2 separate regions of the Homo sapiens genome follow, and region 1 is linked to region 2. Evidence: fine-mapped expression QTL. A gene starts in region 2. The other region holds a variant in brackets. All regions are shown on one strand. Distances are between the middles of the regions. Region 1 overlaps SLC25A13 (solute carrier family 25 member 13). Region 2 holds the start of SLC25A13 (solute carrier family 25 member 13).

Region 1 (2,917 bases), 21 kb after region 2:
ATTCTAGAAATTTTCATTTGATTGACCTTTGGTATGGTTTGGGTTTTGTAAAACCTAAAAGCACCTCAGGGGACTTGAATATGCAGCGAGGACTGAGAACCTACATCTTATAATCCGTACATTAAAATTGGACATTATCTAAAGCTGTGGTTCTTAAACTTTAACTGCATCAGGGTCACCTGGAGGGCTTGTTAAATCATAGGGGATTGCTGGGCCTCACCCAGTTTCTGATTCTTTGGGTCTGGGATGGGTGTGATAATTTGTATTTTTAAAAGTTCCCAGGTGATGCTGATGGTCTCCACACTTTGAGAACCATTGGTCTGAAGAGAGTTGCCTATTTTCATTGTAAATGTCAGATTTTTACTGACCTGAAAGACTTTATTCTATATTCAGCACTTCCAGAGAATCTACTTTGTTTCCTGATCTTTGCCAGAGTTGGGGTTGATCTGAGGAGTAAGGTGCCCTCACAGAGATGGTGGTCTCACATCTCTACAGCCTCCCAGTGAAAGAGGAGAGCTTTGCTTTTCTTTGCATTTTATTTTTCAAATTAGCATTTCTTATTTTCGTGTAGGTTTTCTTATATTCTTCCCCACCATCCTCTCTTAGATCTGACAACTATTTTGAATACACCATTCTATACCACTGTGATTTGTTAAAGTAATGAGCCTGCAACTGTGGCTTGATTCCCTTGTAAGAAAGTCTGTTTAAAAAATATTCCTACAGGTAGGAATTTTCTGGTGACCCCCTACCTATGGCTGCTCTAACTCATATTAGGAGAGTGAATTCATTTGTCCTGAAAGATGACTTTTGTATTCTTCTTGCCATGTTCTCCCCTACCCCCTGCCTTTTTAAAAACACCAGTTCTTGAAATTGTGTTATTGTTTTTCTTTTTATTTCTAGGATGTACCTACCTAGTATGTGTTTTGCAAACGCTATTGATGACTTACACAATTATAACCAGTGTTTATCTTGTCAAAAAGTTTTACATATTCAGTGATTCTCAAATTTTGCTCCTGTGGAGCATAGACTCATTGAATCGACCTGAAATTTCCATACTAAATTTAAATAATGATAGACTTTTCCCAGTTTATGGAAGAAACTATGCATAGAGTTTTTCTGTTCCAACATTGCCACTTTCTGGGCCAGGCATGGTGGCTCATGCTTGTAAACCCAGCACTTTGGGAGGCCAAGATGGAAGGATCACTTGAGGCCAGGAGTTTGAGACTAGCTTGAGCAACATAGTGAGACTGTCTCTACAAAAAAATTAAAAAATTAGTGGGGCCTGGTGACACATGCATTTAGCCTCAGCTACTCAGGAGGCTGAGGTGGGAGGATTGCTTGAGCCCAGGAGTGTGAGGCTGCAGTAAGCCATGATCGCACCACTGCACTCCAGCCTGAGTGACACAATGAGACCCCCAACTAAAAAAAAA[A/C]AAAACAAAACACCAAAACCCTCTCTTTTTCCCTTAAATTTGGAATCAGAGTAAAATGTTATCAAATTTCAACAAAATTCTTTATCTTGTTAGCAAATAATATTTCATAGTAATCTGTAAAGGACCCCTTTCTTCTTAGTGAATTACTCTGTATGTTTGAAAACCAGTTACTTGATTTAAAATTCTTGATATAAAATTTTTGTTTTAATGTTGGAATCCATTCTTACAAATGCAAATTCAGAAGAAGAATCATAAAGAAAATCAGGCAGTTATAACAATAGTAGCTGTAAATATTTGCATGCTATTAATATATGAGAAAAAAATGTAACAGTGAAAGTAAGCCTTCTGGAAACAATCTAAAGTTTGATGACTCTTCTAAACCCCAAGAATGAACGAAGTCTAATAATTCCAGGCTTCTAAAGCCCAAGAATGAACTAAGTCTAATAATCCCAAGCTTATGTGATGCAAAGTATGCATGCTGGACAGCTGTTCTGAATTGACTTTAAAAGGGTGGCTACATTTCTGTGGCTTCCTTTTTCCAGCTCATAGAACTTCCTGGGTATTGGTTTTGCCACCAGGTAGAATTCATTGAAATACACCTTTAAAAAACTGGTACATCTCATGGTAACTTTGCATTGTCTTCAATTAAGTTGTGTAAGTGTTCTTCATTCATAGCAAATGACACTTAAAACAAGAAGATAGGAATGGGAGGTAGCAGTATAAATGGAAATTCCGAACAGCCACACAGCATTTGACTGGTGAATAATAGATGGAATTACTATAGAGATGAGGCCCAGGAGGCTGGTAGTAATTTTTCTGAATCCATCCCCTGTTGAACCATACTTATCTATCCTTAAATAGAATGTACCAGGACCTGAGCCAAATTTTAGTGGGCCTCAGAGAAATCTTGTGGTGATCATTAACCATTTGCTGTACCTGGAACTCTGGGTTGGGGGTAGGGTAGCTGAGACAATTATCAGTTAGGATGGCCACAATGTTTATTTAGTGGTTTGGTGAGTGTGTTTGAAGACCCATGAGTTTCTCTTCTCTTTTGCTAATTTATCCCTTCTAAATTATGAGCCAGTTTACCCATCATTTAGATTTCTTAAGGAGTAAACATGGTAGAACATAAACATCTTTGGATAAATAATACAAATAGTAATAGATACCATTTATTGAGCACTTTAACTGTGTGGCCCTTTTGGTGCTAAGCACTTTGTGTAATTATCTCATATTACTTTTCTAGCTGTCTAGGACTCCCCATTTTATAAATGAGGAAAGTGAGGCTGAGAGGTCAGGGCCTCCAAGTCACATGGCCAGTGAGTTTATGAGGTTGGTCCTGCTCCCTATTTGAGGATGATCTGACACTAAGGCCATGTTCTTTTTTTTTAATGAAGATGGGGTGTCACTATGTTGCCCAGGCTAATCTCAAACTCCAGGGCTCAAGTGATCCTCCCACCTTGGCCTCCCAAAGTGCTGGGATTATA
Region 2 (2,917 bases):
AACACTGATGCATTAGAGATTGTATCCAACACATCAATTTTGGGGGGCACATTCAGACCATAGAGAGATCTTTCTATATCGAAAACCTAGTCATGCTGCTTCCTGACTTAAAACCCTTCAGTTAAGGTGCATACCCTTCAGCAAGGCGCCTAAGACCCACCATGACACAGCCCCTACCTGCTGGGCCAGACTCCTTCCACTAGTCGTGCCACTGCCCCAATCCCATAGCTCAAGATCAAGTTACCTTTTGATATGGTTTGACCGTGTCACTACCCAAATCTCATCTTAAATTGTAGTTCCCATAATCCCCACATGTCATGGGAAGGACCCGGTGAGAGACAACGGAATCATGGGGGCGGTTACTCCCATGCTGTTCTTGTGATAGTGAGTTCTTATGAGATCTGATGGTTTTACAAGGGGCTTTCCCCCCTTTGCTTGGCACTCATTCTCTCTCCTGCAACCCTGTAAAGAGGTGCCTTCCACCACAACTGTAAGTTTCCTGAGGTCTCCCAAACCATGCGAAACTGAGTCAATTAAATCTTTTGGTTTATAAATTACCCAGTCTCAGGTATTTCTTCATAGTGGCATGAGAATTCTCAGTATTCTTATTGAGCCCTGGGAACAGTCTGCTGCCTTAACAGGTTATACTGAAGTAAACATTTATGTGTCTCTTTCCCAATAGCCCTGAAGCTGTTTAACGGTTGGAACCAGTTCTTAAGTCATTTCGGGGTTTCCAGCACCAAGCACAGTGCCTAGCACATAGTAGGAAGGCACTCAATCAACGTTAATGAATTAAACTGATTAGTAATAAGTGCTTTTTGCTGCCATATTACATCCACAACCTACAATACATTAAAAGTCCTTTTCCCTGATCACCACTGTCTTATAAATTTTGATTACAAGGACAGAAGAATGAAATCCTGATGAAGAGGAGTAAGGCCTGGAGGTCATATAAGCAAATTTTCATTAAAATGCTTGTTTATTTATTTTAGTAGGGCCTATTTGGGGGAAGTCTTTTGACCCGGGCCTTTTGACTTCTACCGTTTTAACAGGTAGGGCTGAAATGGAGTAGTTTCATGAATATACGTTCTGCACTACATTCACTTGTTGGGTTCTTAAGAGTTCACCGATTTTGATCTAAAAGTAGGCGTGCCAGCAATATTTGCAATCTCGCCTTCTAAGTCAATGCTTTTGGATCAAAGTCTTTTTGGATCCAGTGTAAAGTGGAGCTCCTTCAAAGGGAACGCACAGGGGAAAAAATATCCAGCAAAGTATGTGTCCTAGTGGAGTTCTCAACTTCCCCAGGCCGTGCACCATCTGTCGTTACTTGCCCCTCCCATCGGTCCGAGGGCCCAGTAGCCCCTGGTATCAGCAGAAGCCAGCAGCTTCCCTGGTGGGGCCACCTGCCCTCAGGTGACGGGCTTGCACACGGCCAAGTTACCTCTGCCCACGCCGCAGAGGCCGCCGCTGCTGGACAGCGCAGCGGGGTCACGTGTCCCTGTCCAGCCACTGCCCCAGGATCTGAGCCCTCCCCGGCTGCAGGGCAGAGGCCGCTGGATCACGCGCACCCCGGCGGCCAAGGCTGGGCCCAGCCAATGGGCGGGCAGCATCCACATGACCCGCGCCGGCGGGAGGGCGTGGGGAGGCAGGCCAGGAACGCACGCTGCCTGGCCGTATCGCCGCCCCCACCGCCGCCGCCGCCGGGACTAGAAGTGAGCCGCCCGGGTCCCAAACGCCAGCCAGCCAGTCAGTGGGTCCCGCAGTCGCCCGCAACCGGGGCGAATCATGGCGGCCGCCAAGGTAACCGCGGGCCCGAGGCCGGGGGGAGCGCGCCTGCCGGATCAGCCTGGGGGTGCGAGAGGCTCGGGCGCTCACGTGTCTGGGTTGGTGCCACAGGCGGAGCAAAATGGGGTGCCGGGCAGCCGTTCCACCTTGCGGCTGCTGGAGGGAGGGGGCCACTCCTCCCGGGCAGCACAGGCGGTCGGTGCAGAGACCGAGGCCCGACCTCGCAGCGGAAACTTTGTGGGCCGGACACTCCCACTTGGCCGGGGAGGGAAGTTGGTGCCTGACGGGGCTGAGCCAGGGCCGACGAGGAGGAGCGGGCGCGACTGGGGCCTGGTGCACCCTGGGCCGGCAAGCGCTGGGGGTCCTCTCTACCTTCCCAGCGCGCTCCTGCTCCTGACCCCGCTGGTTGTTGACTCCGGCTTCTTCCAGGGGCCAGAGCCCGGGCTGAAGCCTGATCCTATTACGTTTCAAGGGCTCCGCCCTCCCGCGGGTGGGGAAGTTACTTTGACTTCCGTTTTGGAAACTGCCTAGGAGACTTGGTCTGCGCCTTTGTGAATAAAAAGTCCAGGGACTCTCCCCCTCCCCGCTTTCCCATCATTCCCATCTTCCCCCTCCCTCTCTCCATCTGACAACACTTAGATACCCGCCTCGGAGCATTTGAGAGGCTTCTTTTTGGGAACGATGAAACAGATTGTCCTGGGAGCCTGTCACTCCTGTGAAGTTGTACTTGAAAGGGGTTCTGTGTAATGTGAATCATTCACTAACCCAGAGGAAAGGCAACTCCAACACTTGACCTTTCCTCTTTCACCATTTCTTGAAACCTGGACACCATTTCAGTCTCTTTGGACTGCATTTCAACTTCTCTGGCAGAATACCATATTTAGTCCCAATCACTTGAATCATTTGGAATTTATTGCTTTTAATTTAAGTTCACGAAGGCAGCCCTCTAATCAAGCCTATACAACTTCTTAGCTCATTTTAAGTGCAGTGAACTTAAATATACCTAACATTTCAAACATTTGTCCTTAATCAAAACTCTGTGATAACCCTCAAGAGGAAAACATGGCCAACACATCATATTCCTATTTATTCAAGCAAACTAATCACATTTGCAATGGAAATTGTAAGCAGA

Evidence for each region. PIP is the estimated chance that this variant, and not a neighbour inherited with it, causes the effect.
Region 1: its variant is fine-mapped to the expression of SLC25A13 in whole blood (TOPMed, PIP above 0.99).

Annotation. Positions count from the first base shown.
Region 1 is chr7:96,300,151-96,303,067 of GRCh38, reverse strand. All of the region lies in intron 1 of SLC25A13 (solute carrier family 25 member 13), which reads left to right. Among named protein-coding and RNA genes, the nearest start is that of SLC25A13, 20 kb to the left of the region's middle. The variant A/C (reference allele first, on the strand shown) is at 1,431.
Region 2 is chr7:96,320,825-96,323,741 of GRCh38, reverse strand. It overlaps SLC25A13 (solute carrier family 25 member 13), which reads left to right and starts at 1,644. Exons shown (of 18, transcript NM_014251.3): 1 at 1,644-1,800. The coding sequence starts at 1,786. RefSeq lists a silencer at 1,509-1,848.